Linked DNA regions of Homo sapiens. The protein of the gene in region 4 interacts with the protein of the main gene of each other region in a biochemical or structural test. Each region holds a gene or a part of one and is shown on either strand. Other genes may lie near its edges. The genes, in order: HNF1B, NFIX, NFIC and TBR1.

Evidence for each region.
Region 1: the proteins of TBR1 (region 4) and HNF1B form a complex in vitro, tested with the Homo sapiens proteins (one study listed by BioGRID).
Region 2: the proteins of TBR1 (region 4) and NFIX form a complex in vitro, tested with the Homo sapiens proteins (one study listed by BioGRID).
Region 3: the proteins of TBR1 (region 4) and NFIC form a complex in vitro, tested with the Homo sapiens proteins (one study listed by BioGRID).

Annotation. Positions count from the first base shown.
Region 1 is NC_000017.11:37,728,054-37,735,076, forward strand, and holds part of HNF1B (hepatocyte nuclear factor 1-beta), read right to left. Parts: intron 5,769-7,023; coding exon 5,504-5,768; intron 3,778-5,503; coding exon 3,542-3,777; intron 1-3,541. UniProt on the Homo sapiens protein: Transcription factor that binds to the inverted palindrome 5'-GTTAATNATTAAC-3'. Binds to the FPC element in the cAMP regulatory unit of the PLAU gene. Transcriptional activity is increased by coactivator PCBD1.
Region 2 is NC_000019.10:13,019,471-13,026,493, forward strand, and holds part of NFIX (nuclear factor 1 X-type), read left to right. Parts: intron 1-4,501; exon of another isoform or gene 4,502-4,561; coding exon of another isoform or gene 4,562-4,564; intron 4,565-5,108; exon of another isoform or gene 5,109-5,163; coding exon of another isoform or gene 5,164-5,249; intron 5,250-5,308; exon of another isoform or gene 5,309-5,526; coding exon of another isoform or gene 5,527-5,550; coding exon 5,551-6,082; intron 6,083-7,023.
Region 3 is NC_000019.10:3,362,126-3,369,595, forward strand, and holds the start of NFIC (nuclear factor 1 C-type), read left to right. Parts: upstream 1-4,457; 5' UTR 4,458-4,511; coding exon 4,512-4,541; intron 4,542-7,470.
Region 4 is NC_000002.12:161,419,278-161,426,300, forward strand, and holds the end of TBR1 (T-box brain protein 1), read left to right. Parts: intron 1-918; coding exon 919-980; intron 981-4,091; coding exon 4,092-4,950; 3' UTR 4,951-6,593; downstream 6,594-7,023. UniProt on the Homo sapiens protein: Transcriptional repressor involved in multiple aspects of cortical development, including neuronal migration, laminar and areal identity, and axonal projection.

The DNA.
Region 1 (7,023 bases), on a different chromosome or scaffold from region 4:
GGCCCATCTCGGCTCACTGCAACCTCCACTTCCCGCCTCCCGGGTTCAAGCGATTCTCCTGCCTCAGCCTCCGGAGTCGCTGGGATTACAGGCACCTGCCACCACGCCCAGCTGATTTTTGTGTTTTTAGTAGAGATGGGGTTTCACCATGTTGGTCAGGCTGGTCTCAAACTCCTGACCTCAAGTGATCTGCCTGCCTTGGCCTTCCAAAGTTCTGGGATTTCAGGTGTGAGCCACCACACCTAGCCCACAGAGCGTTTTTTTTTTTTTTGAGACGGAGTCTCGCTCTGTCACCCAGGCTAGAGTGCAGTGGCGTGATCTCTGCTCCCTGCAAGCTCCGCCTCCTGGGTTCACGCCATTCTCCTGCCTCAGCCTCCCAAGTAGCTGGGACTACAGGCACCCGCCACCACACCCGGCTAATTTTTTGTATTTTTAGTACAGACGGGGTTTCACTGTGTTAGCCAGGATGGCCTCGATCTCCTGACTTCGTGATCCGCCCGCCTCGGCCTCCCAAAGTGCTGGGATTACAGGCGTGAGCCACCGCACCCGGCCTTTTTTTTTTTTTTTTTTTCGGTATTCTGCACACAGTTACGTTTCTGGCTTGGTTAGTGACCCTACCTTGGCTGTGGGCACTGAGGTGGGAAGAGTGCCATGCGGCTCTACAGACAGAAGCCACCCCTGAATGCTGGGCTCCAGCCTGCTGTCTGCCTGAGTGCATGACTCGGGAGCCCTGTCACGGCACACACGCCATCCTGGCAGCCTGAGGTGGGGACACAAGTCTTTGACCCCAGCATCGTGCATCTCAGGCACTAGCACAGCAGCCACCTCTGTTTCTAGTTCCAGGGCCAGGCTACATCTCACTGCCTCTTAGGGGGAATGCCCTGGTGTGTGAGATCAAAAAGAAAATGATTTCTGCTGCCTGCCAGTCTTCTCACTGCCCTTGTTTAGCCCTCTCTAATGTTAAGAGTCATAATGAGGGTAGTATGGGTTATCGGGAAAGGTGTCTTTATACATTCACTCCTTTCATCCTCACATGCACCCTGTGTGGAAGGTCCTATTTCTCCATTTTGTAGGCAGGAAATTCAGACTCAGAGAAGTTATGTGAATTAGCCACAGTTATAACCTTACTGGTTAGAACCCAGATACATAACTACACTCAGAGAAAGAGAAGCCAGTCCCTGGGCTTGGGACAAGGACCATGTTGAGGAGCCCAGAGTGAAAATTAAAGCAGAAGGGCTGGGCACAATCTCACAACTGTAATCCCAGCACTTTGGGAGGCTAAGACAGGAGGACTGCTTGAGACCAGGAGTTCGAGGCTGTAGTGAGCCAAGACTGCACCACTGCACTCTAGCTCGGGTGACAGAGGTAGACCCTGTCTCTCAAAAAAAAAAAAAAAAAAAAAAGACAGAAGAAAGGCAGCCACTGATAATATTCAGTGTCCCATAACTGTTGCTCCAGAAACAGTAATAGGATCTATTACACCGCAGAAAGATCCACAAAGCCCCCAAACAAAACCTCCATCTGCAGCTGGTTCTGGGGACTCGACAGTGACCCGATATCCTTCCTACCAGACAGTAACCTCCCAGAGGGCAGGACGCGCAGCTCGTACATCACTAGCATATTCCCAGGACTTGGTAAGCATTCAACACATCGTAGTGCTGTGGGAAAGTATGGAGTGGGAACCAGCAGGCCTGAGCTCTAGTCCTTGTTTTGCTACCATTGCTCTGTGTCACTTTGGCAAATCACTGCCTCTTTCTGGGCCTCAGTTCCTTTCTTCAAATTCCCTCCAAATTCTAACATTACAAGATTTTTAGAAAGATCCAGACTTCAGGGGCACCCCAGAGTATCCACTTCCCATGGGACACGCCCTTCCTAGACTCCAGTCAGAGGAGTACACAGGCTGTGTTTTCTGCCCTGCTCCCTGTCCCTCCAGCCCTAGCTCTCTGGGTCTCCTGTCAGCACACAGGATGCCTAAACCAACGACCCCGTGGTGACCTCAGCACAGCCCTTGCTTGTCAGAAGGCTGCTGGGCCTTTGTTTGGCTTCCAGGCTCCCTGACTTTGGTGTGGAGATCACAGGTCCCAACACAATGGCCATTGTCTTCCCAGTAATGCCCCTTGCCCCAACCACGCCCCCTGTAGCTCCCAGCTTCAGCTCCGTGGATCGCTGTGGTGGGCAAGCACACTGGTACTGCTCAGTGCCAGCCATGTGCCATTTGCCACAACCCTCAGAACCCTGCTTTGAATTTCCCTAAAGGGGCGAAGTTACTCTGCAATCAGGCCAGTCTTTGCCTAGGGGCTTCTCTGCCTCTTAAGTAACCAAGACTTTCTTCCTGTGTGGCTGAGCCTCTCTCCTCTGTGGGAGTGGGACCTACAGAAACCCCCAGCACTGGCCCCACCTTCATGCTGGGCACTGTCAGGCTCCCAGAGGCCCTGGAAGAGGCAGTGCTATGGGAGGGCACAGCAGGCATGGAACAAATGCTTGTACACCACCCAGCTGATGGCTCCGAGCCTGTCTTGGTGGCTTTGGTCCCCTCAACACTTGGGTCAGCCCCCAGCCCTCAGGCCTTTCTCATCAGAAGGGCAACCGACAGGTGAGGGGAGCCAACAGGTTTCAGAATCACCCCTGAGTTAGAAACAGTGTTTGGCTTTCCTTTCGCAAGCCCTTTTCTTGGAGCAGGCAGGAGGCTGCTACACTTTGTCCTCATGGGCACCACACAGACCCCAGTGAGCACATCCATTCTAGGAAGCCAGCTTTGCCAGAAGAATGAAGGACCAGAAGAAGTGCTCCATCCCAGCCTGTGCCTAACACAGCGCTCAGCATGAGGTGTGCTTTCCCCCAAGGAGGCTGTAGGATTCCATCCTGACAAACCCAAAGCCCACAGCAGAGGCATTCTAATCCAGGCCAGGGCCCAGCACACAGGAGCACTCAATCAAGCATGATGGAGCAGGTACTCGGTCAGTTTTTCCCAACTCATTGCTGCAAAGATTTCAAGTGACTGACCCCCACCAACCCTGATGACACACGGAAGCCAACAAGCAGAGGCCACCAACAGAGTGGCCGTCCCCAAAGGCTACTGAGCTTCTCCTGAGGCAGCCGGACCGAGCGAGGGGCAGGATATGGCCAGAGATGGAGGAGGTGGCCGGAGTGCCATCCTCCAACACAGTGAGGGTTGCCACGCCATCACGACCCGTTTGCCTGCGGTTTGGATCTGGCCCACCCATAAGGCAGCCTCCTCAGTGTAGAATGACCGCTGAGTCAGCAGCCACACAGGGAGAAGAAGAGGGAAGGAGACAAATAGGGTAAAGGGCTCCCTGGAAGCCGAGTGAGCCCTCACAGGGCAATGGCTGAACCAGGAGTTGGAGGAAACTGATCAGAGCCACACATTATTTCCAGGGGAGTATATTCTGGCAATGAGAGAGCGGCCCTAGGATCATCTCAAAAGCGTTTGCTCCTCTGAAAACCCTTAAACCAGATAAGATCCGTGGCAAGAACCAGGATGGTTGGGTTGCCGAGGCAGTGAGGCCCAACCTTTGCTTACCTGACAGCTTGTTTGGAGGAGAGGAGCTGGGCTGGTGGTGGGGGGAGCCGTGGGAGAGCAGAGGGTTCAGGCTGTGAGTCTGGTTGGAGCTATAGGCGTCCATGGCCAGCTTTTGCCGGAATGCCTCCTCCTTCCTGCGGTTTGCAAACCAGTTGTAGACACGGACCTCAGTGACCAAGTTGGAGCCCAGGCCGTGGGCTTTGGAGGGGGACACCCCTCGCTGCAAACATTCTGCCCTGGGAATGGATGGAGGGGAGATGGTGAGTGAGGGGGGGCGGGGGGACTTGTTGGTGCTTGGCCAAAAACACACAATCACAGCAGTCTTGGTTGGGAGTATGAAGGGGCCGTGGGCAGAATGGAAGGCTGGGGAGGAGAGGCCTATGCAGAGAAAAGGCCAATCCATGGAGTGATCTGATGAAGATGGCTGAAGTGGGCCTGAACGCAGGGACAGAGCAGGCTATGCCGCCCTGGGAGTCAGGGGCTTAGGCTCTGGTGTGGCTCTCGAGGAGAAGAGAGCAAGCCGGGGACAGGCAGTCCAGGGGAAGGTCCAGATGGGGCTTCCTTATTTAGCCATTCTTCCCACCACATAAAAGGCAAAGCCCTTCGCTGGCTCTGTCTTGAGTGGCTTCAAAGCACTTCGAGAGGATTTCTGGTCTTTTGGGGCTTGAACTCCCTGAAAGAGTGCCAGGAAGCAAGATGCTTTATCCCCTCCAAAAGGCAGGCTGGGTGGGGTACAAAGCAGGGTGCATTGAGATGGCCAGTCTCTAGCTTTATCAGGGCTGGTGAAACCTCAAAACCAGGTGCGAGAGATTCTTAGACACTACTGGGTGCTGCAAGGCATCTCATTAGTCGGGGTATGGAGCACAGCCTGAGGACTCAGTGGCAATACAGGCCTCCCTGCTTCCCAGCCTGACCTCCCTGGCTGCATTCTTCCCACAGCCAAGGCCAGCCCAGCCCAGAGACAGAGAAAGCGCACACAGGCCTTGGCCAGACCAAAGAGCTGAAGTTTTAGAAAGTCAATACTGGAGTCAGGGAGAACAGGGCAGGAATGAAGTAAAAAGATTTCCCAAGGCTTTCCAATCGTTTAAAAAAAAATAGCTGGGCCCTGTGGCTAGAGCCTGTAATCCCAGCTATTTAGGAGGCCAAGGCAGGAGGATCGCTTAAGCCCAGTTCAAGATCTGCTGGGCAACATAGCAAGACCACATTTTAAAAATAAATACTTAAAATAACACAGAGTTGTTTTTTTGTTTTTTTGTTTTTTTTTTAAATAGAGATAGGGTTTCACCATGTTGCCCAGGCTGGTCTCAAACTCCTGGGCTCAAGCAATCCTCCCGCCTCGGCCTCCCAAAGTGCTGGGATTATAAGTGTGAGCCACCGTGCCTGGCTGGTAGTTAACAAGTAAAAAGAACTCTGTTGAGTCAGCGGGGGCAGAGTGGACTGAACAGATCTGACCAATTCTTACTCTCCTGCCAAGTTTCCTTTTGGACCACTGCATGTCTGACAATTGGTAGAGGCCAGATCTAGAGTCTGTGGCTAAGGGAAAGTTTTACCCTGGCCTGCAGGGAGGTCAAACACACAATTTCGCTTCCCAAGTATCATATTTTAAATTAGCATTCTCCAGAGTATCTTCCCTGGAAGAATAATTCATGGGGTTGTTTGTACTCTACCGAAGATTCCATAGTTAACAACCAATTCAACAAAGCTAAGTGGGTTTCTTGACTGCAGGGCTTCTCGGAACCTTTAATATATGTTGTGACTCTCTAAGGGGAAGTATCCATATGCTGATTCTCAGACTTACTGATTAATGAATTGATATTGGGGTTCTGTGGAACATACTTTGAGAAGCTCTGATTTAGCCACACTTATCTGTATAACTAGTGTCTCAATATCCCAGGACCGAGGGGAGGGTTCCTGGGTCTGTGTACTTGCCCACCTGCCCAGGTGAGCTTCTGGTGGTGTTACCTGTTGCATTCCTCCACTAAGGCCTCTCTCTCTTCCTTGCTGGGGTTCTTTTGCCGATCGTAGGCCTGGTACAAGATTTGCTGGGACGCGGGCCCCCATTTGAACCGGTTGCGGCGCATCTTCTTGTTGGTGGGCTCAGAGCAGGCATCATCGGACTGCCCAGGCCCATGGCTCTGTTGACTGAACTCTGGAAAGAGAAACAGCAGCTGATCCTGACTGCTTTTGTCTGTCATATTTCCAGAACTCTGGACTGTCTGGTTGAATTCTGAAAAGAGAAAGGAGTAGATTTGATAGGGTCTGTAGCCTTCACTCAGCAGACAGACAGACAGACAGACAGACAACGGACGAAGACACCTTTATTCCCCTCGTCTAACTAAGCTTTGCAACCTTCTCTCACTGCATGTGGAGCTGGAGATGGGGAGCCCTCAGCACAGGCCCTTACTGCCCACCTCAGTTGCTCCAGCAAAGCCACCCTTTTCCTTTCTTTGAAGGAGCTCAAACATAGCCAGCTATAGTTTTAAGAAAATTATTATTTTTTCCCCTTTGGCTCACTGGCCTTCAGAGATGAAGCAACACTCTGCATCCTGAACTCCTGTATTTGATGTCAAGTGGGTGAGCTCAATCAAGTCTCACATCCAGGGGAGAACTGCTCAAAGGTACAATTTACACTTGCACAAAATATTCAGAGGCTGTAGATAGCACTCCCCACCTCTCCTCCCTCTTCCTATATCCTAGGTATCTACATTATAAAGTCAGGTTTTTAGAAAAACCCCAAACCTTTTGGAACATGCTTTGAAATAAATATAACTGGAGCTTTGTATTGGAAAAAGAAAATGTGCTTTAGATCTCAAAATAATTTCAAAGACTACAAACACAGGACCTGTCTGGGAGTAGTGTTTAATTAGCTGGAAATGATGCTCCCTGTCTGTCCAATTCCTTGAGTCCAGGCATACTGTGACCATCAGGAGATTTTTGTGGAATGAATGAGAACCAGCAGCTCGGCCCAGAGGTGATGCCTTAGCCCACATGGTTTAATGAGATTTGATATCTACATTACCGAAGAAGAAAGCTTTGCTGTCCTCGTCTTCACATCTGCATGAAGCAGGGCTCATCAGGAGTGATTAATTCCATTTTAAAGATGAATAAACATGGAGGCTAAGCACTCTGCTGAGCAAAGACACGTAATACATTCATCTCCTAGCTCTGGGTCCCTATGTTCTGGATCTTAATATCTTTTTTTTTTTTTTTTGAGACAGAGTTTGCCTCTTGTTGCCCAGGCTGGAGTACAGTGGTGTGATCTCGGCTCACTACAATCTCCGCCTCCCGGGTTCAAACAATTCTCCTGCCTCAGCCTCCTGAGTAGCTGGGATTATAGGTGTGCGGCACCATGCCCAGCTAATTTTTTGTATTTTTAGTAGAGATGGGGTTTCATCATGTTGGGCAGGCTGGTCTCAAACTCCCGACCTCAGGTGATCCACCTGCCTCAGCCTCCCAAAGTGCAGGGATTACAGGTGTGAGCC
Region 2 (7,023 bases), on a different chromosome or scaffold from region 4:
TTTTCTTCCTCTGCTGTTCTGTTTCCCTCCATCTTTGTCCTTCTTTCTTTTCAGTTGTGGGCCTAGCTTGGCACTCTCTCTCCAGGTTTGGCTTTTTTCTCTTTTTTCGTTCTCCTTCTCTCTATTTCTCTTTCTCCGTGGCCCTTTCAGTCTTTTTCTGTTGGGGGTACATTTCTCCTAGTGATGGCTGAAACTGGCATGGGTATGTATTTTAGAAATGTTTCAGTGAAAACTGTTGCTGGTTTTTTTTTTGTTTGTTTGTTTTTTTTTTTTTTTTACCAAATAGTACTCAACAATAAAAGACAGAGGCTTTTCTTCCATAATGGCAGCAAAATCCCTTTCCACAAACCAAAAACCCATATGAATTTTTAAAAAGTCTTATTTCTGGCTTCTCGATGATTTTTCTCTCCAATGGGGGAAATACCTTTCCCCCACAATGTTTCCTGCTTTTCCTTTTTTCCCCCCTTGTCTTTTTTTTTTCTCTTCCTATTACCAGCATCAGTGGCTTCCTTTCCCCATTTCCCATGTCCTTCTACTCTGTGGCCTGCATGTCCCCTTGCTCTTTCCATCACCTGAACTCTTACACTTGCCAGTGACTCAGACCTGGAGAAGCCTTGAATCGTATGAGGGATTTTTTGTCTTGATTCTGGTCTTTGGTGCAGGATGTAAAGCGGTCTGATCTCCTGCCTGGGGCTGGAGGGGAGAAGAGAAGGAGGCTGGGCTGGGAACAGGTAATCTTCCAACAGGAGCCTCCACTCTTTAACAAAAGGGGGACAGTTTCCTTTTGTCTAGGGCTCATGAGGGGCGTGTCTGGGCTGATGGCCGCCACCAGTGGCATGCAGGAGGAGGGGGCCCGCAGTGAAGGGTGCTTGAAATGTTTCTAATGGAACCCGAGCAATTCCTCTGTGTGCGCCCAAAATAGGAGGGGAGGAAGGGAGGGAGGGAGGAAAGAGAAATAGAGAAAGAGACCTTCTCATCTCCCGAAGCATCAGAATATCCTGGCCACTCCTCCAGAAAGGCCTCCTCCACTGGGAGCCAGCAGCCCATAGAGAGAATGGGGTGAGGGGAAAGTATTTGCCTGAGAATCTTCTGCCCACCTGCAAGGTTATAGCCACTGGCAGGAGAAGGACAATTGACAATTGTTCTTCCTCCAACTTTCTGCCCTGGGAAAGGCCTGTTGCTTCTTCTGTTAAGAGAGCCTTGAGGGGGTGCTTGGGGCTCTTTGTAGGTCCCTGAGGCTCTATTGAGACACTCTTCTGCCGCCTCTCCTCTGATCTCTCCGCCAGTCCGTGGAGTTTTGACCCCCAACCCCTCTCCAGGAGCCAGTCGTGCATCTTGTCCTGTTTCCCTAACTTCTACATGGATCCTTCCATCTGTCATTTCCCAGCTGTGGGACTGTTGCTGCCCCCACCTCTATCCCTGACCCAGTTGTACCACCAGATTCAGATTCAACCCATGTCGAGCATGTCTCTTCTACTGTGGCACTGTGGTCTGTGAAGTGGAACATGCCAGGATTCTCCAGGAGGCTCGTGTTGGCCATTTTCTGTTTGGTGTCTAATATTTAGTATAAATCAGAATACAAGAAAAACACCTCCATGCCAAATATAAACTCACTTGTAGTTTTTAATGACCTCATCTTGACTTTAGAAGGTAAAATTGTTTCCACAAGGTGGAGAGGCAGGATTTGGTACCTTATGTCATGTCTCTGAGCTAACATCTTTGGCTGATTGGACTGAAGCTGGTTATTAACATGATGTGAATTATTGGACACCACCCTAAGAGGCCTGTCTCTGATACCACCTGCCTTCTGTACTCTCACCTCTAACCGTTTCTTTCAGGGATCAGCCATGAGCTCAGTTCACTTGAGATGGATAATTCAGGGCACAGACTGGGGTCCCAGGTGTTGGGCAGCCCCTCTCCCATTGTCAGGGTTCAGCGCCAGCCCAGGGCTGGATGTTTTATTTTGGCATGCCCCAGGTGCTCTTCCGGGAACCTTTCTGCCAACATAAAGGCCACAAAGCACAGGGTTTCAGTTGGGGAAGAAAGGGGCACGAGTGAGCAGTGACCTTTTTTCCGTCGCCAGCTGAGGACTGAGCCTCGCTGAGGGAGAGGGCGGCTGTAGGGATGGGGTTCTGAGTGGAATTGGATCCCTTTCTCCCTGTCTGCAGCCACATCCTTCTTCCTCTGCTTTTCCTTTTATGTCATATCTATTTCCTTCTTACTGTGTTTCGAAGGCCTCAAGCATGGCTGCTCCATAGCTCTAACTGGAGAGACCCCCTCAGAAGTGGGACTCCCCTACCCAGTGCTCACCCTTTCTGCTTGCTGTGAGGAAGGTCCCCAAGTGGAGGACCAGAGCAGGGGCTCCCCGGTGGGTCACTTCTCTGTGACTTGATTTCCCCCAGGTGGCCTGTTTTTGATAGAGCCCTTTGCTGTTTTTTGTTGTGTCCTTTCTTAGCTCTTTTCTTTTCATTTGGGTTTCTCATTTTATACTTTTGCACTTTGCACTGCTAGGGTTTGGGCTCTTTAGTCTAAATTGATTTGGGAGACAGGTAAGAAAACTAATCTCAGGTCAACTGGAGAGGGCAGATCTGGAGAATTAAATGCCTGTGCAGTGGTGAGGGGCGTTGGTCAGATTCCTTGCCTCTGCTCAGAGGTAGTGTCCATCTTTTTGCCTTTGTCACTTCTCCCCGGGTCTGGCTGTTGTTTGTGGCTGCGTGTAGAGCTTGTCAGGCGGAGTGCTGTGACAGGAGGCTATTTTAATAAACTGTTGCAGTTTCTCGAGCCGAGCTGTGTTGCGTTGGCATCCCTCGTCACCGCTAATGGAGTGTGCGTGGCTGGGTGTGGGCCGAAGGAGGAGGCTGAGCTTGCTGGGGGCTGGGGGAGAAGGGAGGGACGTGTGGGGTGCTGGCCTCCCCCTTGTCTGAGAGTGCTCCTTCAGCAGCCAGACCTGGGGGCATCACAAGGTGGCAGTACCCTGGGCACCAGATCCCTGCCCTGGAAGTACTGCTGGCATGGACACTTTCTGAGCTCTCTTTCTTCTTATTTCTATTCATAGCACCGCAGGCCCGTGTGTATGTGGCCGGGGAGGAAAACTTCCACTCGCCCCTGTGTGCTCCATAGGAAGAAAAAAAAAAAGAAAGAAAGAAATAGAAACAGAAAAAGAGAGTGTGCAGGCCCGAGAGAAAGACTGAAACCAAAACACAGAGAGAAGGCGCAGCTGCTTCCCCAAGGCCTTCTGGGGCTCCCGCCCGCCAGCCCGCCGGGAGTCAGGCCTTTATTTATTTATTTTTCAGGCTTAAAAAAAAATTTCGAGTCTTCCACAATCCCAGTCCCCCCCAATGCCCCACCCCACCCCCAGATTTGCTGGGTGGCTGCTGCCAAATGGACCCGAGTGGGAGCCTGGAATGAAAAATTCATAACTGCTGGACTTTGCTTGTTCATTAGACGTGAACTTGTCGATTGGGCAAATTGTTTTTGGTCTCCAACTGCCGGGGGCTCTCCCCACCCTCCCTGCTCGCCCGGTTCCCTCCTCCCCTTGGACGCAGCCATTGGCTGCTCGTGGATGTCTCTTTGCCAAATAGGTGGATCCTTCTCTCTCTTTCTCTCTCTCTCTCTCTCTCTCTCTCTGTCTCTTTCTCCCCCCACCCCTTTTTACTGGCTTGGCACAAGCAAATGGATGGGGATTGAGCCTGAAAGGAGAGAGAGAGAGGGAGTTTGAGAGAGAGAAAAGGAGCAAAAAAAAAAAACACCCCAAAAACCCAACCAGTGCGCACACACACGCGCACACTCACACACACGCCCCATCCCATCCACGTCCTCCCTCGATCCTCGATCTCTCCCTCCCCCCCTTCTTCCTTTCCTCCCTCCCTCGCTCCCTCTCTCTCTTTTGCACGCGTCTGCCAGCAACGGTCTGCAGCCGGTCAGAACTCGTCCTCTTCCCCGGGAATCTGCGAGCTCCCCCTTTTCCTCCGATCAGGCAGCTCGAAGTTTACACCCCTGTGCCGCTGCCAAAGCCGAAAGCCTTTTTCTTCAGCTGCCGCTTTTTCCCTCCTGGGTTTTGTTTTTGTTTTTGTTTTGCACGGGGGTGGGGTGGGGTGCGTTGTTGGTTGTGGGGAGATGGTGGGAGGCTGGTTTTGATTTTTAAATTTTGCATTTTTTTCTTTTTTTTTTTTTTTAAACTGGAAGAGGATGCACAGGGGAAGAAATTGAAAAAAAAATTTTGTTGGCTTTTGTTTACCTGGCGTGTGTGGCAGCCGGCTCGCTCCCTCTCTCTGCTTGCTATCCCTGACCTTTCTTTCTTTTTGCTCCTTTTCAAAAAAAATATTAATTTCCCCCTTCTGTGCAATGGAGCATGGGGGGGGGGAGGAGGGGGAAGGGTTTGAGAATCCACCCAAGCCCGGCCCCTATTCCCCAGAACACCAATAATAACCCCCTTTAAAACATTTACCTTCCTCCCCTGCTCCTCCTCCTCCCCCCTCCCCCCACCCGCCCCCAACTCACAACTCTTTTGAGTCCAGAATCTCAGAATCGGGCGTTGGGCTTTGCCGGGTGCTTCAGATCAATGGTAATTATTTAATTTTTTCCAGTTTTATTTTTGTAAACAGAAATCAATTATTATTTAAACTTCAAACAAGCAAACAACCAAAAAAAAAAAAAAAAACCAAACAAAACCGAGAGAGCCCATCCTTCTGTCACCTGACTGAGTGGGAAAAAGGGTGAAGGGGTTGTGGGAGGCTGGGGAAGGGGTCGCAAGAAGACCCATGTAGCTTTTAACCCTAATGTGGCCGAGACAAGCACCTTATTTGTGCTAACAAGAAGTGTTTTGTTCATTATTACTGTGATTAACATTAGTATTGGTGTCGATAACAAAGCTGAAATCACATATTTAGGATTTAGGTCTGATTAAAAAATGTTGGGGTGGATGTTCCAACTGGATCAGGAGAAAAGAAAATGAAAACAGCCTGGGGAGAGGGAAGCCTGATCTGTTTCCTCACTCGCTTGCTCGTGGATGTCATTTTCTGTCTTCTTGGGGGCGGCCAAAAATCGACCGGTGTCGGGGACCAGAGGCGGCCCCGCACGCCCCCGCGTGTGCGTCCACGGGCGTCTGTGCAGACGGACACTGTGCCGGGGCGAGCTGACAGGAGTTCACGGCTGCGATAGAACATGGAGATGTCATGGGCGCGACAGAGCCTGGCGGGGATACCAGCAGCGTGTGTGTGTGGACGGCAACGTTGTCTGTGCGCGTGTGTGTGAGTGAGTGAGGGAGAGAGAGAGAGAATAGGTGTGTGTAGAGGCTCCCGGTGCCTCTGTCTGGCTGCTGAGGCTGAGATGGGAGCAAGTGGCTGGCGAAGCTGGTGGTGGCTTCAAACCACACTTTCGTAGAACAATCGCAAGAGAAAATTGTTGGGGGGAGGGAGGAGGAGGAGAAGGCGGTTTTCCTTGTGCCCCCCCTTCTAACGCTGCTTTTCTCCTTCTCTCTTTCCCCCTCATCCCGTCTTCCCCTCCTCCCGTCCTCCCTCGCCCCGCATGCTCCCGGCTTGCCGCCTGCAGGATGAGTTCCACCCGTTCATCGAGGCACTGCTGCCTCACGTCCGCGCTTTCTCCTACACCTGGTTCAACCTGCAGGCGCGGAAGCGCAAGTACTTCAAGAAGCATGAAAAGCGGATGTCGAAGGACGAGGAGCGGGCGGTGAAGGACGAGCTGCTGGGCGAGAAGCCCGAGATCAAGCAGAAGTGGGCATCCCGGCTGCTGGCCAAGCTGCGCAAGGACATCCGGCCCGAGTTCCGCGAGGACTTCGTGCTGACCATCACGGGCAAGAAGCCCCCCTGCTGCGTGCTCTCCAACCCCGACCAGAAGGGCAAGATCCGGCGGATTGACTGCCTGCGCCAGGCTGACAAGGTGTGGCGGCTGGACCTGGTCATGGTGATTTTGTTTAAGGGGATCCCCCTGGAAAGTACTGATGGGGAGCGGCTCTACAAGTCGCCTCAGTGCTCGAACCCCGGCCTGTGCGTCCAGCCACATCACATTGGAGTCACAATCAAAGAACTGGATCTTTATCTGGCTTACTTTGTCCACACTCCGGGTAGGTCGTTCTCAACCATTTTTCCCTCTCATTTTATTTTCCTTGCTGGCATTTGTTCTGTTTATTGTTCCTCTAATTTCCAAGCGATAACTCGCCATGGGCCTAACTGGTGTATGCCCGTCCTGCGGGGCCTGCAACACGGTTCTATGGGCCCTTTTCCTTTTTCCTGTCTTCTGTCTCCCCCGACCTGTTCTATTCTTCCTCCTCTGCCCCCTGGCCATGGTATCGACTTTGTGCATCTCCATCTTTGGAGGACTTATCTGATCAGAAAGATGCTGCAGGTCTTAGGATTGGGGACATGATGCCCCCAGAATTATCCATGATGGTGAGAGTTTGAGATGAACAACAACAGCAAACCAGTAATTGCTCTTATTAAAATGAGTCAGAAGAAGTATTGAGGGGCAGGTGCTAGTTTTACTGCAGCTTCACCTCCAGTCCCAGGAAAAACTGGGTTTGGTACAAGCGGGATGGGCAGGAGTCCGGTGGAGAGAAGGGGCATGTGAAACCCTGGGATATGAGACTGAATGAACAGAAAAGAGGAGAGAAGACAGTAGTGGGCAGATTCTGTGGCCTAAATACTCAGGCGGGAGCTGTTTTGGCTGGGATTTGGCTGTCAGTATGAAAGTAATTTGATTTCATAGAGAGTGAAAACAAGGACGAGATTCCTTGAGCTCTTTCCCTTCTCCTTATTTCAGCTAAAGTGGCAAGGCCTCAGGATGGATGCCCACAGCCCTGGCACTGGGGAGCAGAGAGGCTTTCTCGGGGCACAGGCATGGCAGGGAGCAGCGTTGCTGTGGAAGAGGTCTTAAACAAGCAAACAAACAAACCAAAAAAAAAAAAAACTCTGTAAAATCTCCTTTTCCTTTTGTGTTCCAAGTAGTTCTGCTTCTCTTCGCTTTTCCAGTTTTACCCTGCATTTTGGGTCAGGGTGGTTTAGTTCT
Region 3 (7,470 bases), on a different chromosome or scaffold from region 4:
GAGCAGGGAGGTGGCGTGCTGTGTGTCATTGTGATGGTGCGTATGTGACTCTGTGTGTGCCTGTATGGGAATACCGGGGGGTTCCACTTGTGGGTGTGTGTGTGCTTGTAAGAGTGTGTGCTTTTGTGTGGAGTGTGTCTGTGATTGTGGACAAGTGCCCATGTGTTTGTGGTTGTGTCTGCACTTGTGTGGGGGCAGCTATATCCATGCGTTGTGCTTGTCAAGAAGCGTCCTGTGGGGAGTTGGGAGGGTGTGTTTGTGGCTGTGTGTGTGCCATGTGGGTCTGTGTGTGTGTGTGTGTGTCTCTGCTCGCCCCTCTTTGAGGAGGTATCTGAGGTCAGGTGTGGGGGGAAGGCTGTGATGATATATGGGTCTGTTTTTATGTGAGTCTGTGCGTGTATTTGTGTCTTTGTGTATGTAGCTGTGTGTCGTGTGGAGTCTGTGTCTGCAGCTGCTTGAGTCTGCACGATGTGTGTCTGTGTGTCTCTGTAGGTCGTAGTGTGTGGTGTGTGTGTCTATCTGTACCAGCCTCAACGGCCTATCTGACCTTTAACTCACTTGACTTTAACATCCCTTCTTACAGCCTCAGTTTCTCATCTGTAAAATGGGACCACATGGGACCCTTGCAAGGTTCCTGGGGAGCTGACATTGTGAGCCCCTTGCTGAGCAGGTGCGGGGCTAGGGGAGGCTGACTGCACACTGCACTGCTGTGTAATCATTTGCCTGCAAGATTATGTCCTTTATTCTCTGGGTGTGGTGGCTGTGGGGTTACCATGGGGGGCTGGGGGTTCCTGTCTACCCTGCCTGAGCTGCTCTGTGAATTGCATTCAACTTTTTAAGTTTTCCTTTAATTACTGAAGCCATTAGTGATCATATGAAGAGGATACAACTGTATCCAGAGGAAAAAAAATCCAATCTTTCTGATCACCCCCATTCCTGGGTGGAACCCCGCTCCAGAATGTTACCATCTATAGTTGGAGCATTTGCAGGACTGAGAAATACACACTTATAGAGGATACATGTGCATATGTGTATATTTCCATAAAGGATGTACTTGTGGAAATACTCGTGTATTTCCATAAAGGAGACATATGTATATGTATGTGTATGTGTGTGTATATATATATATATATATATATATATATTTTTTTTTTTTTTTTTTTTGAGATGGAGTTTCGCTCTGTTGCCCAGGCTGGAGTGCAATGGCATGATCCTGGCTCACTGCAACCTCCACCTCCCGAGTTCAAGCGAACCTCCAGCCTCAGCCTCCCGAGTAGCTGACATTACAGGCACCCTCGCCCATGCCCGGCTAATTTTTGTAATTTTAGTAGAGACGGGGTTTCGCCATGTTGGCCAGGCTGATTTTAAACTCCTGACCTCAAGTGATCTGCCTGCCTCGGCCTCCCAAAGTGTTGGGATTACAGGCGTGAGCCACTACAACCGGCCAAAGGAGATATGTGTGTGTGTGGGTGTGTGTGCATGTGTGTGTATGTAAAGGATACTATGTATATTTGTATAAATACATGTGTACTCTTTAAAACCCTAAATGAGATCTTGAATTTCCTTGCTGGGTCTACAGCAGTGGGGTCTCAGCCAGGGTTGATTCTGTTCCCATGGGACACTTAGCCATGTCTAAGGACATTTGTGGTTGTCACGACTGGGGGGTGCCCCTGGCATGGAGTGGGTGGAGGCCATGGACTCTGCTCAGCACCCTGCAGGGCCCAGGACGGCCCCAACCCAGAGAGCGATCCAGCCCCAGTGTCCACAGTGCCAAGGGGGAGAGCTCTCCAGCTTTCTGTCCCCCCACTTGTCTCTTGGGGACATAACCAGTTGGGAGCCACTGGTTTTACTCAGCTGCATAGTGTCCCAGCCTGTGTTGGGATTACTAAACCGGTCCCCCACAGATGGACAGCATGGCTGCCTCCAAATTGTGGGCATTAGTTTTATAGGTGGCAGTCAACTCTTTTGTGCTCCTGTATCTGGGACAGTTACAGAGATGCCGAAGAGTGAAATAACTGTAGAGAGAGTGCTTTGAAAAAAAAAAAAAATGAGCCAGATTGTGCTCGAAAGTGCCAGGAGCTAAATCATGCACCCATCTTCCGGGCCCTCCACATGCAGGTCCCAATCTACCAATTGCCTTTTTAAAGAAACTATGACGTACAGTTCCCTGTTGTAACCACGGGCAGGTATTTGCTGACTTGCCTACAACCTGGAGGGTTATGAGCTGGCGTCGCCCCATTTCACAGAGGGAGAGCCGAGGTGCAGAGAGACGAAGCTGCTGACTGGAGGAGACATAGACCCAAGCAGCGAGCCCACGCGGCAATTTAGGGAACCAACTGTGTGTGCTGCGGGGGTCCCTTGCCACCCAAACTGGGATATAGGCTGCTGTTCGTACACTTGCAGAAGTTTCTCCCTGCAGCTACCGCCACCAATAATATTCACACAGCCTTCCCACATGCTATGTAAAGACTCCAACCTTCCCCACCTCCCAAGATGCATCCTGTTACTATAGCCATTTTACAGATGAGGAAACCGAGGTTCCAAGAGGGGCAGTCTCTGCTCTCTAAACTTCACCTTCCAAAGGATTCTAAGCTGCTGAATGAAGGCTGCAGGCAGGGTGGTCTGTACAGGGGAGGGAGGGTGGAAGGCACGGGGTCTGGAAGTCTAGGAGGAGTGTCTGAAGTCAACTGCAACTTTTAAATATCTGTGAATTTTAGATTTCACCCTGTATGTGTCCCTAGCGTGTTTTAATAAAATAAATTGCTTCACGTTATATTGGTATGTGGATTTCCAGATACACTTCTCACCATTTAATTCAAATGCTCCCCACAGCTGCACAGTGGGTTTAAAATACACAGACACACACATTTATGGACCGTTCGTGATGTACTAAGCACTGTTTGAATAATGTCACCGTCATGCAGAGGGGAGCCTGTGGGGGGCCTAGGGAACCTACGCTGCAGGAATTCTGCTCCCTCCTAGTTTACCTGTCAGACCCTGGGCAAGTGGCTTCCGTTCTCTGGGCCTCAGTTTCCTCTCCTGTAATGCCTGAGGATAATGGGTGCTGGTATCTTCTGCGCCCCTGGGCCTGGGGCACCTGCCCCAGCTTGGTGAGAGGGTATCATTTGTCCTTGGGAAGCTCAGAGAGATGAGGTGAAATGGCCAAGCTTTCTAAGAATGTGTCTTTAGTGAACATTTGACCCAAGGTCAAGGCTCTGCTAAGGTCATTGTCCTTATCCCCAGCAATCCCACAGGATGGGCATCTTTAAGCCACTTTATAGGGGAGAACCCTTGGGATGGGAATGAGAGACACAGCAGCCTCTGAGCTAGCCTGGGAGGATCCAGGGAGTGAACCGGGGGAGGGTTGGGGCCCTGTCATCAGATGCCCTGGGGGCTCAGACGGAGGCAGGCCAGGTCTCTGCCCTGTTACGTCTAGAAGGAGAACAGAATGTGGGCTCCAGGTCCAGATGGCCTGGCTCCAAGCCACACTTGCCATACCTCAGTCTTGAGATCTGTGAAAAGGGCACACCCCTGAGGCAGGTGGAAATTATTGGATACCCAGGGGGAGGCTGCAAGGGTTTATCTGGCCAGCTGGAGATCCCGCCTGGACACCGTCCTCCTGGGGTGCTGGAGAGACACACAGGCGAGGCCACCCCTCCCCTGCCCCTTGGGTGCTGGGTGAAGAGAGCAAATTCTGGAGCCTCCCGTGTTAGCCTGGGCCCTTCTGGCCAAGGAAGGGACAGCTGCACACAAGCCCCTCTAGCTGGGGACCCGCAGCCCCTGCCTGGCTCTGGGGGGAGAAGGGAGCCAGGGTGCTGTGGGACCAGCTCACCGTGCACCCAGGGTCGTACATCTTTAAGGGGAAAGAGGCGCGCTGGCCGGCCTCTGCGCACGTCACTTCTTCATTCCTTCCCTCCCCCCTGGCTCTTTCCTCCAACTTCCCGGCCAGCTCGGGGGTGATGGGGGGGTGGGGAGGGGGGGCCTTAAAAATCCACCCCTGGCCCCTCAATGTCCAGAAACAACCCTGTCCCCCCTCTCCGCTTGATCCGAATTGGGGTCGCCCTGCAGTCCTGGGGTCCTGGTCTAGTGCCCTGGGGCATTGCGTAAATACGGGAGGAGCGGGGGGGTCCTGAGACGTCGGGGGAGGCTCTCCTTTCTCGCTCGCGCCCTTTTTTCCCTCGTTTCTTTGAAAGTTGGGTGTTGAGAAGTGGGAGGTTCGGGGTGGGAGGGGGAGGGTGTCAGAGGGTAGAGAGAGAGACAGAGAGACAGAGACGGGGGAGAGAGGAAGAGAGAGACGGAGGGAGAGAGGGACAGAGAGCGAGGCGGGCGGCGCGAGAGAGGGAGAGCAGGAGGGAGGAGGAGGGAGACCGAGGGAGGAGGCGGCGAGGAGAGCGCGCCGGCCGCGGGGCGGGGGGGGGGGTTGGGGGGGGCGGGGGGGTGGTTTGGAAAAATGACTCAGTAAGTTCAGCGCGCCCGCTCCGGCCGGCCCTGCGCCTCCCGCCGCGCCCGGGATGTATTCGTCCCCGCTCTGCCTCACCCAGGTACGGTCCTCGCCCGGCCCCCCGCCGGCGCCCCCGCGCCCCCCGCATCCCAGCCCCGGAGTTTTGAAGCAGGAGGAGGCGGGACGAAAAAGGCGCGCGTCCCTCCCGCCATCCCTGCCCGGGATGCCCCCCGCGCCGAGGGCTGGGGTCCGGTGGGGGGATGGGTCAGGCTGGGGTACCCCCCCCACACCCTTACCTACCGCGGACCCCCTACGCGGGACTCCCGCCCAGCACCCCCAACCCCGACTCTCGGGACCTCTCCCGGATGTGGGGCTTGGTCTGCAGATTTGCGTCCCCCCCCCACACACCGACGCACTCCGCACCCCCGCCCCGACACTCGGAAAGGTCGGGGTGGGGGCTGGCCCCCCTCCAGCAAGGGCTCTGCGGGAAGCCCCCCGCCTGCCTCTGAGAGGAATCTAGGGGGTCGTGATTGGACCCTGGGTCTCCCCAGCTGGAGAGAAAGGGACCTCTCATGTGTTTTCCCCGTGTCCCCCCACCAAGGTTGTGCGGGCCGCCCTGGCCCTCGGTCGCCTTTCCCTCGTTATTGGCCCACGTGTGCATGGAGGGGGAGGGGGCAGGAGAAGTTGGAGGCCCAGGAGGGGGAAGGGTGCTCCGGCGGCCCGGCTGGGTCCCCCCTCCTTTGCAAGCCCCCCAGCACCGTCCCGGTATTTTCGCTGCATCGATTCTGGATTCTGGATTCTGGATTCTGGAGCCGCCGCCGGGAGGAGCGGGAGGCCCGGCGCTCCGGGTCTGGCCCGGGCACTGCGGCGCTGCGGACGCCCTCGCCAGCCCGGCACCTGCCCCGTCCCCTCCCCCTCCCCCTCCCCCTCCCGTAGCCTCTCACCCCTGGCCGCACTCCCAGACTGCCCCGGGGCCGAGCCTTGTGCAATGGCCGAGGGGGTGTGTGGGGAGGGGGCGGCTCCCCCCGGGGACTCCTTCCAGCCCAGGCTCCCGGGGACCCCGAGGTCTGCAAGTTCCGTTTTCTAGACCGCTGCTTTCCTCCTTACGCAGTGTGTCTTTAGGCTGGAGAGGTTCTGGCCTCAGTTTCCCCTGAAGTGAGGTGCGGCTAAGGCCGGTTCTGGAGAGGGGACAGTATGGCGGGCAAACTGTAAAGTCCCGGCACGTGGGGGGTGCGATTCCAGCGAGGGCCAGGCCCGTCTTAAGAAGCACTGTGTGGGGAGTATATGAGTCCCCGGCTTCCGCTCCAGGGCATGGTGCAGTGAGGGACCCCCCACGCCAGGCATGCTCCTTGGTAGGGTCTTTCTCACCGGCCCCCTGCAGCCGACAGGGAATGTGGGAGCTGGTGCTGAGGGGGTCTGAGGTCTGTCCTACCTGTGATCCCCTGAGTGACCTTGGGTAAGTCCCTGTCCCAGCCTCAGTTTCCCTTTCTGAGCAGCTTTGGGGGGGGGGTTCCCGAAGAAGGCATCTCTTTGAAGTTCTCCAAGAACAACTAGGGTTCGAGTGGGCACGCTGTGTGACCTCGGGCAGCCTTTGAAGTCTCTGGGCTTGTGGGGTGACTGAGGTGTCCCCGCTCTGTCCTCACCAGCTGGAAGGAGCCATTTGGGAGGGCTGAGCGGAGGGGAGGCTGTTCCAGGCTGGGGAGGTTGGAAGGCTGCCTGTGCACCCTGGAATTCCCCCATCAGGGCTGGTTGGGAGACATCCTGGTTGCTGGGGTGGGTTGGGGGTTAGTAAGAACCCCAGTCCAGGCTTTGCCTCAGAGAATTGCTAACTCGGCCTCAGTTTCTCCAGGAACAGGGCAAGGACCAGCCAGGAGGGCTGTCTGTGGAAACCAAAAAACGGAGAGGCTAAAAACTAAAAACTATCCAGGGGTGCTGCGTGCAAGAGACAGAGATGAGAAGACAGAGACAGGCAGAGAGACAGAGGCAGAGAGCTCCCAGGCCAGAGTGGGGACAGCGAGTCCCAAGTGCAGGGGGCTCCCTCCTCCCCTGCGATTCTCCTCTCTGCCCCGCCCTCCACCCCAGCCCTGTAGTGGAGCTGGGGACCCCCTTTCCAGTTTGTCTTCAGCCTGAATGTAATCCCCACTGTTCCCCCAAGGCCCAGCCTGGTCTGGGGTAGCCAGTGGGGTGGGCTGGGGGACTCAGAAGGACCCTGAGTGCCCCATGCAGGAGCCTCCCACCCAAGTCCTGGCTGCCTGACTCAGTTTCCCGAATCACGTCCCCTCCGTTTCTCTCATCTTGGTCTCTTTTTGTCTGTCTTTCTCTCTTTCTCTCTGTCTTGCTCTGACTCTGTGTGTGTGTGTGTGTGTGTGTGTGTGTGTGTGTCTGTTTCTCCCTGTCTCTCCATCTCTGTCTCTCCCCGCCTCTGTTTCACTCCCAGTCACTGTTGGTCTCTTTGTGTCTCTCTTTCTCATCCTCTGTCTCTCTGATGTCTCAGTCTCTCCCACTGTCTCTGTCTCTTCATGTCTATCTCACCATCCCTTTCTCCTCTTTGTCTCTGCATGTCTCTTTGATGTGTCTCTGTCTCTCTGTCTCTCCCTCCCTTTGCCTTCTTTGTGTGTCTGTCCGATGTGTCTCTGTCTGTTTCTCTGTCTCTGTCTCTCTGCCCCCTTCCTCTCTGTCTCTGTTTCTCTCCAATATGTCTGTCTGTCTCTTCATCTCTGTCTCACCTTCCCTTTCTCCTCTGTCTCTGCGTGTCTCCCCTTGCCCCCTCTCTCCCTGTCTCTCTCTATCTCTGCATGTGTCTCCTTACTCCTCTCTCTCTGTCTCTCTCTGTCTCTGGGCCTCCCTCTCCCCCTTTTCCCAGCTAATTTTACAACCTGAGCCCAACCGAAAATAGCTCCCTTTTAGCTGATCCGACCCGGATCCTTCTCGGGAGCCGAGGCTGGCGGGGGGTGGGGGGCATCTCGGTGCCAGCCCGCTCTGTGCCACCCGGGCCCGGCCCGCCGAGTGGGGAGTGGGTGCTGGCGGCC
Region 4 (7,023 bases):
GGGCCACCTTTGAGGTGGCCAGGATTTCTAAAGACTCTTCTTTTGGGAGTTTTAATTTGGGCTTTGAACTAGAACAGATTAAAATCTACTTTAAAAAAAAATTCTCTCTTTCCTTTAGAAAACAAGCAGATTTCCCCGTGCATTTTATTCTTGGCAAGCTTTGGCATCTAAAAAAAAATTTCTCTCTCTCTCTCTTTTTTTCATCTCAGAACTGATGGCTGAAATGAACAAACATCACTGTTCTGGGAGATCAAAAGAACATACACATTCATATATGTGAAAACTACAATAAATCAAATTACTGAGGGCTATGGATTGAGCTTTCTAGCACTTGAACCACTTCTGATTTTTCAAGTTTGCAAAAACAGATTTTAGTGGCTGATTTGACTACTAGGAGTGATAGGGGTTTTTGTGTTTGTTTCTTTTTTTTACTTAAATGATAATATCAGAAATTAAAACATGCTTTTAAATCCAACCTGATTTTAAGATGCAACTTGTGGTTTCTCAGGTTGTGAGTCAGAAGCGACAAACGTTTTAAAATATAAAATACTTAAAATAGTCAACATTTAGTGATGAATTCAAGTTCTCCTTAAAGATTTTTGTCTGAACAAGTGCATTGTGTGTAACAAGCATTTTTAAAATGTGAGTTTGAACAAATTTAGAAAACACAGGAGAGCTAATTGAAAGCAGTTCTTTGGCTATAGGTATCATTAATTTAAACATGTTCCTCATAACTTTCATGATACTTTCTCTTTTTTTCCTTTCCACTCAATCCCTCAAATTTTTCAGTTAGGAAAACCTTGCTATTTAATAAATTGTAGGCCTTAAGCCCCTGTAAAAGTGGCAGATGATATATTCTCAAACACCCAGTCTTCACGTATAAAAGGTGAGATAACATTCATTTTTTTTCTTTGCCAGATTACACAACTGAAAATAGATCACAACCCTTTTGCAAAAGGATTTCGGGATAATTATGACACGTAAGTAACTTTGTATCTTCCTTTTCAAATAGCTGTGGAATTGGGCTTTAGGTCAAAGGTGTATTATTATGTACAAGGATTTTGAAAGCTGGAATGTGTGAAGACAAGGTTGTTTTAGAGGACTTCTTCTTCTTCGTCTTTCTTCTTTCTTCTTCCTCTTCTTTTTTTTTTTTTTTTTTTTTTTGGTTGGCTCCCCTTCTCTCTGGTGACCTTGTGGCTTGGTACTTGCGTGGTTTTTGGTCAGAGGTTTCCTCCACCTAATTTTAACTTTCCTGTGGATTACAAAGTTGTTGGTGGGCCTCTGGGGCTGGCTGGCTGGCTGGGGAGGCTGCCCTGGTTCTCGGGTGCGAGTACTGTATGTGGCGCTGCAGATGCTCAGCTCAGATTGTCTATGTCTGTCTGAAACGGGCAATTCTGCCTAAAAGTGCATGTGGCTCCTCTGGCAGTTGTTAACAGTCTCCTTAGCATATGCGACCTTTATTTACCCATTTCCAAGTTTTGTATAATAGCATTTCCTGTGCAAGTTGGCTACGGACTGAATACAAATGTGCACCCACCACAGGCGAGTTCATGAGCAGAACCGCTGTTATGGTCATTTTAGGCTTTCGGAAAGATTCAGACGGTGTTGCTGTGTATTATTTATAAGCTTCAAAAGAAAAATATTTCCTCTTTGTTTTGTATCTAGGTGTGTTTTAATTAAACATGCTGGTGCCCTTTTCTTTAGGCCTCCCTTACCTCCCTCCTTTCTATCAAAAGGCTGTTCTCTGGGGCCAACAGTAGGTGTAAACTGAATGCTTTCTGGGCTTGTTCTGCAATTCTCACTCAGGGTCCATAGTGCCTAAGAGTTCAGATAGTGTCATAAATCTAAATCTGGATTGTGGGGTTCCCCCACGTTTTCTGACCATAAAAGGAAAGGGTACATACATCTTAATTTCGTGGCTTACATTGAGCGCCTGAGACAGAGCTAAAAAGTTGAAGCTGCCTTTGACTAGCATAGATTAAATGTGTGGAGAAAGAGACAAGTGACTGCCTCTATTCCATCTCCAAGCAGATACCAACCATCCCTCCTGATATTTTCTAATAATTTAAAAGAGAGTCATTGATATTACTGCCTATAACCACCATATATATTCTTCAAAAGTACTCCAAAGGAACCAAGTCTCATCAATATGATTCCCCAGAATAAAAACTTGGCTACTCTATTCCTCACAATCTAAAAAGGTGTGCCCAGCACAGTGGAAAGTATATGGCTCAAGAGACTAGAGATGTTAGAGGAGAGTCCTGTAGATTTTGAGATTTTAATTCTGTTGTGAACATCTGTTCAAAAGCATTTTATTTTGCACAAATCAATTCAGTAATCCCAAGTGGGTGGGACCTGGATAGGCATCTAAACTGTATCTTTTGCGGACTGCTTTTTTCTTTTTAAAATATTGTGGTGATAAACAGAGAAGATATTTGCACCTTGCTAGTTATGTTCCCTTCCTGCCTCCCTCTACTTCTCTTATTTGAAACTGGAATTCAATTTCAGAAGGGAAATTTTGTGCACTAAACAGAACGGACCTGAGCAGCCACAGCAAAACTCTCACATGCCCCTCCTCCTCTGGCTGCCTTCTGTTGGAAAAGCCACTCCTCTTTGATCTTAAATCACTTTAAATCTTTCATAAAAGCTTCTTTATCTATACACACACACACACACACACACACACACAAACCTGAGATTTTTAGGGGACAGAGAAGAGTTGAGTGGTTCATGACACTCTTCCTTTCCCCTTTTACGTTGGTTACTTGGACATGGCTCAATTTTGGAGAAAGAGGGAGAAGTATAAGGGTTCATGGGGTACTAGGAGCTTGCTTGGCCACTCACCAGGGAATCTCCTCCCCAAAGGATTAAGGTCTGACAAGACTGAGGCTCTCCTTCAAAACAGTCTGTTGACTAAAGATTAAAACATTTATGTGTGAGCTAAATAAAAAGGGAGGCATGTGTGCATGTGTATGAGAAAACACTTCTACCAATCTTCATCCAACCCTTGGTTTCCTCTCAATTCTAATGGGATTTTCTAGGCCCAGGGCCTAAAGTTAATCTTTGATTATTTTATCTAAGGTAATTCCCAACAACACAATCACTGTCGCTGGTTGGGCAAGTTATTTAACTTCCTTTTGCCTCAATTTCCTCATCGGTAAAGTGGGATAATAAAAGTTACCTAGCTCACAGTGCCTGGCATATAGTCGAGCTCCGTAAAGGTTAGCTATTATTAGTGGTCCATTGCATGGAGTAGGCTGATAAGTACACTGTAGGTTTGCCCCGAAGTTTCTGCGGGTAACGGACCAAAAGCTAGGAAAAGAAGGTCAGAGTAAAGAACACCTTTTCTCTTAAGAGAATATTTCTGATTGATGACTACTGTTTCAGAGTAGTAATTCTTGTTTGTATTAGTAGAGGTGGGAGTGAAAGTTTCACACAGGGGAAACAATAGACACTAAGTACTTTGGAGGCTTCCAGCAGCAAACCTCGGGTTCCAGAACACGGGTGAAGGCCAGTCTTTCATGATTACTGCGTGCGCGGCTTTTTCCTAGGGGTTTCTGAAACAATCTAGAAAAAGGAGAGATATCACCTGAACAATCAAATGGACACAGGAGGTCTTAAAAGGGTGGAGGAGTGAGTACCTTGCTTAGAAATTTCACTCATAAACTGACCGCAGAGGAAAGGCCCACTGGGCAAAGAGCATCTTACTCCCTAGGTAAATCTGCCTTAATGTGCACACATATGTTGGAGAAGTGGGATGAAAGTCCTTGCTTGTGCCCCTCTCTCAGTACCCCAGTACACTTGACGAGAGAGAGCAAGAGAAGAGGGAAGTCGTTCCCTTGATGGTCTGTATCTTGCTCAGGTCCCTGCATAGACAGATTGGCTCCTCTATAATTCCGTGATTTATTTTGGGAATGATAGAGGTCTGTGGCCTCTTGTATTCTCCAGGAAATCCTGGACTGCAAGTTTGTAGATGGAGGGTGTGGGGGTGGGCGAAAAGTGGAGGTGGCCTTCCCTTCTGCCCCCACCCCCACCCCAAGGGACCTCCGCGCCACCCCTCGGCTCTCTCTCTCTCTCTCCCTACCCCGCAGGATCTACACCGGCTGTGACATGGACCGCCTGACCCCCTCGCCCAACGACTCGCCGCGCTCGCAGATCGTGCCCGGGGCCCGCTACGCCATGGCCGGCTCTTTCCTGCAGGACCAGTTCGTGAGCAACTACGCCAAGGCCCGCTTCCACCCGGGCGCGGGCGCGGGCCCCGGGCCGGGTACGGACCGCAGCGTGCCGCACACCAACGGGCTGCTGTCGCCGCAGCAGGCCGAGGACCCGGGCGCGCCCTCGCCGCAACGCTGGTTTGTGACGCCGGCCAACAACCGGCTGGACTTCGCGGCCTCGGCCTATGACACGGCCACGGACTTCGCGGGCAACGCGGCCACGCTGCTCTCTTACGCGGCGGCGGGCGTGAAGGCGCTGCCGCTGCAGGCTGCAGGCTGCACTGGCCGCCCGCTCGGCTACTACGCCGACCCGTCGGGCTGGGGCGCCCGCAGTCCCCCGCAGTACTGCGGCACCAAGTCGGGCTCGGTGCTGCCCTGCTGGCCCAACAGCGCCGCGGCCGCCGCGCGCATGGCCGGCGCCAATCCCTACCTGGGCGAGGAGGCCGAGGGCCTGGCCGCCGAGCGCTCGCCGCTGCCGCCCGGCGCCGCCGAGGACGCCAAGCCCAAGGACCTGTCCGATTCCAGCTGGATCGAGACGCCCTCCTCGATCAAGTCCATCGACTCCAGCGACTCGGGGATTTACGAGCAGGCCAAGCGGAGGCGGATCTCGCCGGCCGACACGCCCGTGTCCGAGAGTTCGTCCCCGCTCAAGAGCGAGGTGCTGGCCCAGCGGGACTGCGAGAAGAACTGCGCCAAGGACATTAGCGGCTACTATGGCTTCTACTCGCACAGCTAGGCCGCCCCTGCCCGCCCGGCCCCGCCGCGGCCCGGACCCCCAGCCAGCCCCTCACAGCTCTTCCCCAGCTCCGCCTCCCCACACTCCTCCTTGCGCACCCACTCATTTTATTTGACCCTCGATGGCCGTCTGCAGCGAATAAGTGCAGGTCTCCGAGCGTGATTTTAACCTTTTTTGCACAGCAGTCTCTGCAATTAGCTCACCGACCTTCAACTTTGCTGTAAACCTTTTGGTTTTCCTACTTACTCTTCTTCTGTGGAGTTATCCTCCTACAATTCCCCTCCCCCTCGTCTTTCTCTTACCTCCTACTTCTCTTTCTTGTAATGAAACTCTTCACCTTTAGGAGACCTGGGCAGTCCTGTCAGGCAGCAGCGATTCCGACCCGCCAAGTCTCGGCCTCCACATTAACCATAGGATGTTGACTCTAGAACCTGGACCCACCCAGCGCGTCCTTTCTTATCCCCGAGTGGATGGATGGATGGATGGATGGTAGGGATGTTAATAATTTTAGTGGAACAAAGCCTGTGAAATGATTGTACATAGTGTTAATTTATTGTAACGAATGGCTAGTTTTTATTCTCGTCAAGGCACAAAACCAGTTCATGCTTAACCTTTTTTTCCTTTCCTTTCTTTGCTTTTCTTTCTCTCCTCTCATACTTTCTCTTCTCTCTCTTTTAATTTTCTTGTGAGATAATATTCTAAGAGGCTCTAGAAACATGAAATACTCAGTAGTGATGGGTTTCCCACTTCTCCTCAATCCGTTGCATGAAATAATTACTATGTGCCCTAATGCACACAAATAGCTAAGGAGAATCCACCCAAACACCTTTAAAGGATAGGTGTCTGTTCATAGGCAAGTCGATTAAGTGGCATGATGCCTGCAAAGCAAAGTCAACTGGAGTTGTATGTTCCCCCCACCTTCTAAATAGAATAGCTCGACATCAGCAATATTATTTTGCCTTATTTGTTTTTCCCCAAAGTGCCAAATCCATTACTGGTCTGTGCAGGTGCCAAATATGCTGACAAACTGTTTCTGAATATCTTTCAGTACCCCTTCACCTTTATATGCTGTAAATCTTTGTAATGAATACTCTATTAATGATATAGATGACTGAATTGTTGGTAACTATAGTGTAGTCTAGTGAAGATGAATTGTGTGAGTTGTATATTTTACTGCATTTTAGTTTTGAAAATGACTTCCCCACCACCTAGAAACAGCTGAAATTTGACTTCCTTGGGAGAACACTAGCATTAATGCAAGTAAGACTGATTTTCCCCTAAGTCTTGTTATATTTGATAAGGAGCATTAATCCCCCTGGAAATAGATTAGTAGGATTTCTAATGTTGTGTAGCAAACCTATACTTTTTTGTATTTAAAAATTAATGTGAAATATGCATCATACACAATATTCAATCTAGATTCCAGTCCATGGGGGGATTTTTCCTAATAGGAATTCAGGGTCTAAACGTGTGTATATTTTGGCTCTTCTGTAAATCTAATGTTGTGATTTTTATATTTGTTTCGTTTTGTCTGTGAACTGAATAATTTATACAAGAACACACTCCATTGAGAAACGTTTTGTTTTTTGCTCGTTTGTATCGTCTGTGTATAACAAGTAAAATAAACCTGGTAAAAACGCTAACTATGGTGTTTGAAAGCAGTTTACAGTTTGAAAATAATTTAATTATTATAGGTGATGATATTTAAGGGTTAAGGAAGACTAGCCCGTCCCCACTCCAATATGGGCAGCCTGTTTAATGGAAGCCACCTCCCATTCCCCCCTTAAATTTGTTTTATAGTACTTCCAGGAGCTACTTTTTTCTTCTTATTTATAATTATTTAGCTACCTATGAGCCAAGTCTCACTTTTCTGCGCTCATTTTCTTTTTTCAGGAAAACATATGCACTTTTCTCATCATATTTATCTGATTCTCTCTGAAGTTGGAAATAATGCGAACAGGAAAAGGAGGTTCTTTAAATAAGGAGTTAAGAATTTCTTTAAATTTCACAGAGTAAGGCGGGAGGCGTTGGCCAAAAGTAGGGTGTAATTTAAATGCATGTCAAAATAGGATG